Linked DNA regions of Homo sapiens. The protein of the gene in region 1 interacts with the protein of each later gene in a pairwise test. Each region holds a gene or a part of one and is shown on either strand. Other genes may lie near its edges.

Region 1 (7,290 bases):
GGTGATGTAAACTGGATCCAGACTCAGAAGGAGCTATGCACAGCGGTAAGGAATGTGCCAACTGCTGATTGGCCCATATGCTCCTATGGGCTTTTAGGAGAGAAGAAAAATGCAGGGCACTCACCTTTAGAGAGCACCAATTTGACATCACAGGGTGCTAGGCAGGCTTCTAAGATAAGTGAGACACTCAGGAGACCCTGTCCCCAACAGGCATACGTCCCTCACAAGTGAGGTGACTGACCATAGCGCAAAGCAGAATGGAGCCAGTGCTGGGATGCAGAGGTACAAGGGGAATGAAGACGGCACAGTTAACTCACAGTTAATCCGGCTGGACATGAAAAGGAGCCCAAAGATCCAGGGAAGCTGTACGGAAGGCATGGCTTCTTTTTTATTTTTTATTATTGTAGTAATAATTTATCGTTTTGACTATTACTACCATCACTACCATCTATCCACAGGCCTTTTTTTCATCTTGCAAAACTGGAATTGCCCGTTCCTCCCTCCCCCCAGCCCCTGGCAGCCACTATTCTGCATTCTGTCTCTGTGGCTGCCTGCATGGGAAGGGTTTCCGCAGGCAGCTACGCATGGGCATTGTTGAGCAGTCATCACCTTGGCTGTGGCGTAGGAGCTGTGACCCGAGAATGCTTCGAAATACAAATATTTGTGCCAAGGGTTGCAGTGGAAGCCACTGGCCAGTCTTATCGATGTTTTAGTCTCCTGGTGAAAGTTGTTGGAGGACCACACAGATGCCCAGGAGCAGCCATGGCTACTGCACAGTGGCTGGTTTGCAGAGAAAATCTTAGAGGATTACTGACTCAAAACTCTCTCACTGCTGGGCGAAAAGAATGAGCCAGAAACTTAAATGCTTTTAGAATTTGGCCCATGGCCCTTTGATTTGCGAGTATTCTTTATGGTTTAAAATCTCCTCCTAGTAGCTCATAAACATGTATTTCCATATTGATTTGGGGCTCTTGGTAACCCAATTTGTGTGATTTTAAAGCTGCAGAGGCTGATAGGATTTATCTTTGGATGACATGTTGGCATGTGCGTGGCTTGCGCCTGGTCATGGATACGGTGTCCCACAGGGTATTTGGAGGCAGGAAAGGATCATGGAGAGAGGCCTGTATGTTAGCCCTGTAGCCAGCGGCCTTGACAAGGCTCAGAGGCATCTTAAGGACACCTCAAGAGCTTTTCAGCAAAGATGTCACATTTGCCTTAGGATTGCTGCCCCCGGGCCTCACACCCAGTTCACCCAAGAGGGCTCTCGGGAAGCGCTGCCCGGGGTAGTGTGGTGGTGGTATGCAGGGGTCGGGGGGAACCACTCTTGGAGAACCAACTGTGCTAAGACCATGGAGCCTGCAGTGAGTTGCCCAGGTTCACAAGCAAGCTCTGTCGCTTTCTAGTGTCTGACCTCAGGCAGCTCTTCCCCTCTCCAAGCCATAGCTCCTGCATCTGTAAGATGGGGAGAACCTGTCTCAGAAGGCTGCTGTGAGAATGAGGTGAAGTGCTGTATGTACAGTGCTCGCATGGTGGCTGGCACCTAGAAGAAAGTGCCTGTTACATGTTAGCTGTCTTTATTGTTATAATTAGTGTCCAAGCTCACCCAGGAACAGAGATGCTCAGACCAACATAAATTCTGGATCTCCATGTAACTCTGGGCAAGTTAGTAGGTAACATATTTAAGTCTTGGTTTCCTCCTCTGTAAAAAACACAAAGAAAAAAACACCTAAAATAAATATTGCCTCTCTCAGGAAGCCTCCAAAGTTAAAATGCAGTTGGGTGCCTGGGACCAAGTTACATACTCAGTAAATGGAAGTTCCTTCCTTCCTTGACCTAATCCTTTCGCCTGGAGTTAGCAGCAGCTTGGACTGAGATGCCACCAGGAAAAGCAGGGACCAGCACACAGGCTCGACTTCCCCGGGGCCTTGTGGGGGTGGGTGGTTGTCAGTGGGTGCTTTTCCAACTGTGTAAAACATCCATGGGACTCTGAGAACATGACCATTGGCATTGTAAGCAAGAGCAAGGGTCTTTCTCTGTAAGTGGGTTTCATTTGAATGGCATCCCTGATGAAATGAGAACCTACTGCCTAGCAAAATATTCTACTTCTGGAGAAGCGCAACTTTCAACCTTCCAAGTTCATTGTTGTTGTCAAGGAATCTCTGTTAGACCTGAAGGATTTTCCTTTCTCAGTTTCTATTTTGTGGTTATATGTACATCTTCAAGGGTTTTCAATGTGAAAATATTGGGCATTCCTCCTCTCTCCTCCCTCTTCCTCCTGCATTTTTAAAAAGGTGAACATGTAAGGCTTAAGGTTCATGGATCTGAACCAGGCTTGTGAATACTCATCCAGGTCTCCGCCCTGGAAGACGACTTTTCCCCATCCACCAGCCCCAGTGCCCCCTCCCTCTCCCTCTCAACATAAACAGAACAGCTTGTATTCCATGTCTGAATAGTAAACCTGCTGTCTAAAGTTTGCTTTAATATTTATGCGTTCAGCACTGCTGCCTGTTTCTGAGTTCCATCAAAGCCTTTATTATAAGAGCATTTGAAAATGTGGGGGAAGTAGAGAAAGGAGTTGACGTGTATGCCGTCTTTCTCACTCTCCACTGACTTAGCCTCTTCCCTCTCTCCCCTCATCCTTTTCTCCCTCTCCCCTCATCCTGCAGTCTCTTTTCCTCTTACATACACATGCACACACGCACACACGCACACACACATGCAGCAGAGAGAACTCTTTCCCAAGACCTCTGGGAGGACTCTGTTCAATATTTAAACTGCTGCAGCAGCTGTAATAACCAGAGGTAGCTGGCACCACCAAGATTTGCTCTAAATAGGACTCTGCCATAGAAACAAAGAATGAGCAAGGGCAAAGGGTGAGGTTGAGGTGCCTGAGGGTGCAGCTTCCCCGGGCAGTGGATGAGCACTAGGCCAGTGGATGAGTACTAGGCCGGGTCGTCGGACCTGGTTCTGGGCCTGGCTCCGTGGCCGGCTCACTGTGGGACCCTGGCCATCCACGTGCCCCCTCAGGGCTGCAATAAATTTCTGAGAACCCTTCCAACTCTGATATTTGGTAACTTGGCATAAGAGAGGGTGACCCCAGCCAGTCCACCCACATCTGTCCTGGCCACCGAGGCCACTGTACCATAAGACATTCCTGTTTTGGAATGCTCACAGAGCAGAGTTTTTTTTCCCAAAGACTAGGGGCCAGGCAGGGTAGCCTGTTGCTTAGGTAACAGGATGCTGCTGTGAGGACCGGCCCCCTCCCAGTGGTTTTTTAGGGGCCTTTTTTTTTTTTACTATCCACACATTTCAAGGTTTGAATTCCGGCTCCTCTACATCCTAGACTTGGGCGGGTTGCTTCAGTTCTCTGATAGCCTCTGTTTCCCCCTGGGTAAGTAGGGATGGTGTTCTTTACCTTGTGAGATTGATGCAAAGGTTACATGTGAGACAACCTAGAAAATGCAGGCACATAGCAGTGCACAGCACATGTTAGTTCCACTCCGCTCTGTATGGGACAGGCCCTCTTCCAGGGGACACTAAGCCATTCACTGCCTGTGGGCCAGTCGGATATCCCCTTTCCAGAGAATGGGTGATGTGACTGTTTGCTTCTTAGCACAGTTGGAGTGACACAGGAGACTTGCGCATAGGATGGGTGCTCTGTGTACCGTCGGCATATGTAAGCGAGGCCTCGGCACAGGTGATTCGGCAAAGGGATTGATGCAGGTGTGGGTTCCCTCTGCTTCGTACATCCCTAGAAAGAACTCAGGGAAGCCGGCTTTACTGTTGGAAAATCACTGCCCCACAGCATCGGACTGTTTCTCCACTTCCCTCTCTCCTGGGTCTGAGAAGACATTAGGAGAGCAAAGTGTTAGCTCAATCCATTAAGACTCCTGCTTCCAGACCATGCCTCCGGGGATATTAGATGCCATAATGGTCATTTCTCTCTCTCCTGGGGCAGCAACTATATCATTCACATGTGAGTAAGAGATACCACTTACACACAGCCCCAGAGCCTTCTGCCAAAGCTCAGTTCCTGTCTCCATCACCCTGGCCCTCTCTCTAAGGGGCCTTAATAGGAGGCATCACAACCACTTGCTGTTGGAGGTGATGGATGGGCCTAACAGAAGAGGATTTCTGGGGGTAGACACACAGCTGGCACATGCCTGAATCCCACATCCCATTTTCTGGCACACGACCAAAGTAATAAAGAGGAACGGGGCAAAATAAAGAGGTAGCAGGAGCAAAATTACTTCCCCAGCATTGGCAGGGGTGGGGCTGACAGGGGAGGGGTGAGAGGTCACATGCTTTGTCTCCCCAGTCTTTGTCTGGTTTGGATCAGCAGGTGTTTTATTATGCAAAAGCCTCTTACTAGAGAGTTCTCTCCATTTTCTTTCTCAAGCCAGGCCCCAGTAAGGGACCAGGGGGCAGAAGTGCAGGCAGCCATCCTAGTCACCCACTGCAGGAGATCCTTCAGCACGACACTCTGCTGGGGGGCCCTCGGCCAGGCTTAGCTGGGAGGAAGGCGAAAGCCCCTGCCTTCATGCAGCTCTCTGTCTAGGGAGAGAGGGGCTGGGTGGAGGATGGTCTAGCAGTCAGGCCCACATGTGCTGGAGGCAGTGGCCTGGGGCCGGGTGTGGGAGTGAGAGGTGACCAGGCAGGCTTTCACAGAGAAGACATCTCAGGAGGGGACCCGGAGGAGGTGTGGGACTTCCCCAGTGCCATTACTGGCCTGAGCAAAGGAGGCTGAGGGAGGGAACTAATGTTCCCTGGACGTTTGTTATTTGAACATTTTCAGAGGGGACCACCCAAGGGCACAGTTGTGAGTCAGAGCTAGGATTTGATTGCCTTTTCCTCTCTGGCTGTGGGCAGGGGACAGTCAGAGGGCAGTGAAGGGTTGGACCACCCCATCCTCCCCCTTCCCCTCCCACCAGATCCCCTACACTTGCTCTAGGAGCCACCGCAGGAAGTCCAGAGTCACCAAATCATCCCTCGCCATCTCCTAAAAAAAAAAAAAAACAGGGTGACCATGTTATTTTGGGGGACGAGGACACTAAAAAAAAAGAAATGGCGTCTTAAGGATCACTGTGCTGGGACAACAGGGGAGACAAGAACACAAGCCTGCCCACCATGACACTCTCTGATGGCATCCTCTGCTGATCTGTTGCCAGAACTGTGCCCAGAGCCTCACCCTCCTCAGGAATATTTCCTTTCTCTTCCTGGTCTCACTGAAACCTGGTGCTCCTACACCCCTCCTGCCACTGGAGACATAGGAGGGGTCTTCCATGCTCCAGTACTTCTAGACTATTCTCTCTCCCTCCCTTCCCCGAATACACCCAGCTGTCGAAGTTTGTGTCGGGGGACTGCACCCCCCGACAGCCCCTCCCTGTTGTTGGCACCAGCACCTGTGCCCCCAGTCCTTGCGGGGATTCTGGGCTCACTGTCAGCCTCCCCAATGCTCTTGTCATATTTCTTGGTGATTGCAACATCCATATCTCTTTCTCACACCCCATTTCCGGTCTATCTGTAAATCCTATTGGAGCCACCCTCAGAAAACATCAAGAAGCTGAAGACGTCGCCTCACCTCCACCGCTACCTGCCCAATCCAGGCCACTGTCACGTCGCATCTCCTTTCCCTGCCTTTGCTTCCCCCATGGTGTCCCCCACACAGCATTGAGAGGGATCTGGCAAAAGTCAAATCACGTCATTCCTTTCTGCTCAGGACCCACCGCACAGAAAGGCCACAGCCCTTACCGTGGTGCACAGACCCACACCATCTGGGTATGGCCCCTCCCGTGGCTCCAGGCTGTGGCCACGCTGACCTCTTCGCTGACCCTCAGATAAACCAAAGAAGTGCCTCCCCTTAGATCCTCTGCCCTGGCTGCCCTGCCACTCGCTCCTAGACCTTTCCACACTCATCTCCTTCTGATCTTTAAGCAGATACTCCCTGCTGACAGCCACCTGTGTATTTTGTTCACTTTTTGGTTTGTGACCCTCACTAGAAAGTAGGCTCCACACAAGCAGAAATTTGCATCTGTTTCTATCACTGCTTTATTCCCATTCCCAAAAAAAGGTTCTCAAACTGGAGCATACATCAGCATCACCTGGAGACTCAATAAATCCCAGATCACTGGGCCCCACCCGTTTCCTGTTAAGTGGGTCTAGGGTGGTCCCAAGAATTTGTGTTTCTAGTAAGTTTCCATGCAGTGCTGCTGCTGCTGCTGCTGCTCGGGTCCACACTCAGAACCACTCACCCAGAGCAGTGCCTGCCCAGCTGGTGTCTGTCTTAGTCTGTTCGTGCTGCTGTAACAAAATCCCTGAGACTGGGTAATTTATGAAGAACAGAAATGTACTTCCTCACAATTCTGGAGGCGGGGGGTCCAAGAGCACTGCCCCAACCTTTGGTGTCTGCTGAGGGCCGTCCTATTGCATCCTCACATTGCAGAAGGGGGAAGGGCAAAGGGTCTTGAGAGTTCCCTGCAGTCCTTTTGCAAGGGTCTAATCCCCCTAGATTAGACCTAATCTAGACCTAATCTAATCTTATAATTAGATGGTAAGAACCTAATCACCCCATAAAGGCCTTCGATGCGTTGAGGATGAGGTTTCAGCATGAGTTTTGGAGGGGACACAAACATTCAGACCTTAGTAGCATCCACGCCATGTGTGTTGAGTGAATAAATACATGAGGGCGGAAGTGAAGGGTGTGGCTAGGAGGGGAATCCAAGCATGGAAAGGTAAGTTGGGACCTTTCCACTGAGGCCTCAAAGGCAAGACCCCAAGGAATTTGGCTACAGTGGGGGCATTAGGGCGACTTGCACCTCTGTGGGAGCTGGGGTTCTGGGAAAGGTATGAAGCGACGCAGCCACGGTGGATGCCATGCCTGGGATCCACTCCTGACTCTATCTTTGTCCCCCTAGAGTATGCAGAGAACATCGGGGACGGCCGGAGCCCGGAGTTCCGGGAGAACGAGCAAAAGCGCATCCTGGGCTTGCTGGAGAACTTCTAGAGGCACCTTGGCCCTGCGCATCATGGACTCTCTCAGCTTCCCTCCCAGGATCAGTTTCTACACAACTCTGTGTGGCTTTTGGACAAATTAAAGCTAGTTTTGGTATCCCCGGGCCAGTTTTCTTTGTAGTTAAGCTTCGCCTGCTGACCCTCCCTGCCCCCTCCCCACAGCAGCTACTTCAGGACTCCCCCAGGGAAGGCACATGGGCAGCCTCACTCCGCCTGCAAGAAAGCTGAGGCTCAGAGGGTGTAGCAGTGACAACTTCGCCACTGTGGCTACGCAGGTGG
Region 2 (5,057 bases), on another chromosome or scaffold:
GTATAAGTCATTCTTATAAGAAGCACTGTTCCCTCAAAATGGTTTTGAATGAGGCTTTAGGCTTCCTATGGAGATCGTTGGTAAAATTTTCAGATGCTTGTATTTTTACTTTGGGGCATTTCAAAGTGGATATAGTAGTATTAGCAGTCTTTTTATTTATCTACTTAAAAAAAACAGCTACAGCCCTAATGCCAAATGCAAGAGGAGTTCCCCCCCTAGTGTCCCCCGAGAGTGGAAGGGTGGTGACAGAACCTGGCTTTGCCCTTCCTGTAAGAAAGAGGAAGTGAGCAGAAGAACAGTGATGTTTACTCCCCAGGTCATCTTGTCTCATGGCTTTAGATACCGTCATATGATTTATGTCTCCACCCTCATACACCTCACCATCACTCAGCGGCTCTGATGCTGGATGTTCGCTAGGCAACTTAAATCTTATGTGTCCAAAACTCAACCCAGTATTACCCCATGAATTTGATTTCCTCCAGTGCTGAGCAGCTCATTAAATGGCACCACCATTATTCACCTCAATGGTCAAGCCAAACACCTTGAAGTAATTCTCAACTCAGTTTTTCCTTCCTTCCTTCATTCAACTAACACCTTGTCCAGACCACCAGCTTTTCTTCTATGGATGGCTTCAGTAGCCTCCCAGTTGATCTCCCTGCCACTACTTGCTGTTTCTCCTCATCTACTCCGCAACACAGATGAACACACATACACACAGTTTTCTGTCCGCAGTGCCAGAGCAATCCATTTCAAATATAAGTCAGATTGTGCCTGTCTCCACTCATACATCTCTGGTGGCTTTCCATCGTATTTGTGTTAAAAGCTTTTTACAGCAGTCAGAAGGCCCTTTATGATGTAATAGTACTTGGCTACCTCTCCCTTCACCTTTTCTTACTTTTCATATTCTGCTTTGGCCACTCTGACCCTCCCCTTGCTACTCCTTGAGCATACTAAGCACATCCAGTCTCAGGGCCTCTGCCTTAGAAACTTCTCCCTCCAGATGCCTGCATGTCTTCTTCCCTCCATTCAGGTTTCTGCTCAAATGTTATCTCCTCAGGAGGGCCTTCCTTGACTATCTTATCTAAAATAGGACCCCTTCACTTTTACCTGGCTTCGTGTGTTTTCGTAGTCTTTATTGCTATATGATACCACGTTACACATTTGTTTATGCTATAATCTGTCCACTTAGAATGTAAGCTTCATGAAAGCAGGGACTTAGTTTACCCACATCCTATAGCCCTAGCATCTAGAACAGTGCCTGGCATAATTAGACACAGTAAATATGTGTTGAATAAACATCTAAAAACCATCAGAGTAGAAGATGAAAAGTCAGACTTTTGGTAGGGGTTTTGTTGTGGCCTTGGGCAAGTTCCTTAGTAGTTTTTATGCACATGATGTTTCCCATCTGCAGAATTAAGAGGTTGGATTAGATTGGTGGTTTTAAAACTGCTCCAGGGAATTCTAAGGGTTCTTCAGTGCCATCTGTTGCTAGAAGAGGATGAGAGAAATGCTAAGGAAGCCAGGCTTCAGAACGCCCGACTGCACCCTCTCACTCCTTCCAGGATTTTATTAATAACCTGCTTTAACTGTTTCATATTGGGCTTTCATAAAGACATGGGGTTCAGCTACTCAAAAAAAAAAAAAAAGCTAAAAAATTCCTGGTCTGTGTGATCTCTAAGGTTCTTTTCAGCTCTGAAATGTCTAGGCCAGGGTTACTCAAACCTTGACATTATTGACATTTTGACCGGGTTAATTTTTTGTTGTGGGGCTGCCCTGTGCATTGTAGAATGGTTAGCAGCATCCTTGGCCTTTTCCTACTAGATACTAATTATACCACCCCTCCCCAGTATAACAATCAGAAAGGACTCCAGACATTGCCAAATGTCCCCATAGAGGCAGTCGCCCCTACTTGAGAACCACTAGTCTAAGAAAAGGACAGAAAAATGGTAATTCCATAAAAGTGGCATCCAGGGAATACAAATAACGGTGTAATGAGATACCATTATGTACTGGCTAATTGGCAGACATTTTCAAATTTGAGTCTTCCAGTTGAGAATATGGGACAACCAGAACCGTCAATGATGGATGTGTATATTGAAACAACTACATTGGAAAACCGTTTGTCATTATCTTGTAAAGTTGAAGATGTGCATATCCTTTGATTTAGCTATATAGTTCTTGGGTATGTGCCCTAGAGAAACATGTATTGCAGAGCACCATACAAGTATAAAAATGTTCAAATGCCAGGTACAGTGGCATGCACCTGTAGTCCCAGGTACTTGGGAGGCTGAGGCGGACAGATCACTTGAGCCCAGGAGTTCAAGGCTGTAGTGCATGATGATCACACCTGTGAATAGCCATTGCACTCCAGTCTGGGCAACATGGTGGGACCCTGTCTCTAAAAAATAATAATAAAAATTTAAAAAAATTTAAAAACGTTCTAGCACTTTTGCTTGTGATAATAAAAAACTGGAAACCACCAAAACATTCATTAGCTAGAGACAAATCCAGTACCATAGATAAGTTGTGGTGTATTTGTATATTTGTAAATAGTATACAGCAGTGGAAGGGAACAAACAACTGATACAGCAGCTTGAATGAATTTTATGAGCATCATACTGAGAGAATGCAGCAAGACAAAAGAAATACATATAGAATTTACATAGAATTTGAGAATTTACATAGTATTCTAAAACAGGAAAAATGAGCCTACACTGTTTTAAACTATACATGTTTTATGAGTCTTCTGTATATCACCTATGCAAAAGCCTGATTCAGAAGGATAGAGCTGCTCTGACAAAGGCCTGCGGCTATGAAGAATAAGTGTTGCCTCAGTTGTTATTTGTAACCCCAAATCAAATGTTTTTTCTTGTGTTCCTCTTAGAGAACGCCAGATCAAGTGTCCCAAGTGTGATAAGCTGTTCTTGAGAACAAATCACTTAAAGAAGCATCTCAATTCTCATGAAGGAAAACGGGATTATGTCTGTGAAAAATGTACAAAGGCTTATCTAACCAAATACCATCTCACCCGCCACCTGAAAACCTGCAAAGGGCCCACCTCCAGTTCGTCAGCACCAGAGGAGGAAGAAGAGGATGACTCAGAAGAGGAAGATCTAGCAGACTCTGTGGGGACAGAAGACTGTAGGATTAACAGTGCTGTGTATTCAGCGGATGAGTCTCTTTCTGCACATAAATAAAAGGAAAAGAAACAAGCAATTTTGGATGAAAATGCAAATGGAAAAATACACATAACCAGTTATCTACTATAATGGTTTTTATATAAAATGGTTCCTGATTTATTTTCAGCCAGTAATCAAAACAGACTGGGAATGAATAAAGCACTTACAGAAGAGTATCCTAATGAAAACACTTTAAAACAGATTGGGAAAACTGAGCATGTGTCCTGTTTTAAGTGGTGGACTGGGAGGGAAGTGTCAACTTCTGAGGTCTTTATTTACATGATAATCTGGGAGATGCATTTATGCCTGAATCAAAGCTGCCTTCTGCTCAAACAAATCAGATTTATTTCACATTCTTCCATTATTCCATTTTCCTGCTGGTCCTGTGACTTGGTAACATTCTAAACGGTCCTTGCCCCATAGCCATCCTGATTGCTGATAGTGTTTTATGCAGACTCTTGTGACTTATACTCACCACAGAATGGATTGGGACACAGCAGCATAAGTGTGCTACTTGGCAGCTAGTAAGTTTAAAGCAGGACCTGCCTTAACTGCTCCTGGCCACTTGGAAGTTTAGGGTAGATCTTGTTTTCCAAAGTTTCGGCAGGTGCCTGGAGGGCAAATAAAAAAGCAGCAGTCAGTCAGTAGTCAGTGATGGAGAGAACAAGAGGAGAGATGCCTGGCCTCTGCCCAAGAAATTAGCTTTGATGGAAGCCTGAGCAAGTCACCTGGTTATTGTAACGTGGAGATCTTTGTAGGTTTAGACATGGCTCCCTGTCTCCAGTAAACATCCAGCCATTCAGACAAAGGGGGCCTGGAGATACAGAGAGCCCAAATAATGCCTGCTGGATTGTCTCCTGATGAGTACATGTGGACTCACCTGAGGAAGGGAAGGAAGGGAATAATCTTTTATGTTTCATTTACCTTATGAAAAGTGTTAAAACATTGCCAACTCAAAATAACATTATTTAATGCATGTGCAAAGTTAGGTCTTCCCAGTTGTCTCAGTGCTGAGGAACCTCATCAGAGAAGCATGGAAGATGCCAAAGGATTTTTGGAAGGTAAAGAAGGCTGAATAGTGACCACATGGGCCTGTTTTCAGGGTCCCAGCTTAGTTAAGTCACCCATGCACCTGGTCATTGTGTCTCCCATGCACATCCAGCGTTTCTCAGAAGCAGACCCACCCTTAAGTTGACAGGATTGATGGAACATGCTCTCCTGCTCAAGGCACAACCTCTGGGCTGGAGTAGAGGACTCTGGTGGGAAGGTTTTGCTGCTAATGTATTTATGGAATGAATGTATTTCATTCAAATCTGTATTCCTCTAGGAAGGATTAAAATTAAACTTTTTTAAAATACAGGATTCCTCTGGTAGTCTCATTTCATGGAGGAAGGAGATGAGTGAGTCTTCTAGGGAAAGTCAAGTACAATTTGAATCTTTCTGAGGTTAGAAGAAGAGAGCATTTCTAGAGTATTTTAGCTTTTGAGATCATATTCTTATTGTTTCTGCTGTTAGTACTTAAGACAAACTGCTTCCTGTGCTTCCAACCCTCTTCTGCCCTGTTCCTGCCTAAGGTATGCCTTTACTCTGTTACCTCCTTGGAGAAATGTGGCAGGTCTGCAGTGGAGGGTTGGGGGATGTGTTGCGGATGGTTAGGGTTGGCTGCTGACACTGGGTCGTGACGCCTCCCTCAGGGCAGCTCTGGTTCCTAGGGCAGCTTCAAACTCAGCATTTTGCCAAAGGCATCCAGCTGGCTGGTTCCCCCATACCCAGGAAACCACTGGTACTGGGACTCTAAGCTCCCTTTCTTCCTTTATCTCAGTAGCACACACTGGGTTCACTTCCTTCATTCCCAAGACTGAAATGATGCCCAAGATA

The links.
Region 2: the proteins of CTNNBL1 (region 1) and PRDM4 interact in binary tests that used the Homo sapiens proteins (3 or more experiments, as listed by UniProt).

The regions. Positions count from the first base shown.
Region 1 is NC_000020.11:37,865,011-37,872,300, forward strand, and holds the end of CTNNBL1 (beta-catenin-like protein 1), read left to right. Parts: intron 1-6,914; coding exon 6,915-7,003; 3' UTR 7,004-7,108; downstream 7,109-7,290. UniProt on the Homo sapiens protein: Component of the PRP19-CDC5L complex that forms an integral part of the spliceosome and is required for activating pre-mRNA splicing.
Region 2 is NC_000012.12:107,732,350-107,737,406, reverse strand, and holds the end of PRDM4 (PR domain zinc finger protein 4), read left to right. Parts: intron 1-459; exon of another isoform or gene 460-852; intron 853-2,884; coding exon 2,885-3,197; 3' UTR 3,198-4,536; downstream 4,537-5,057. UniProt on the Homo sapiens protein: May function as a transcription factor involved in cell differentiation.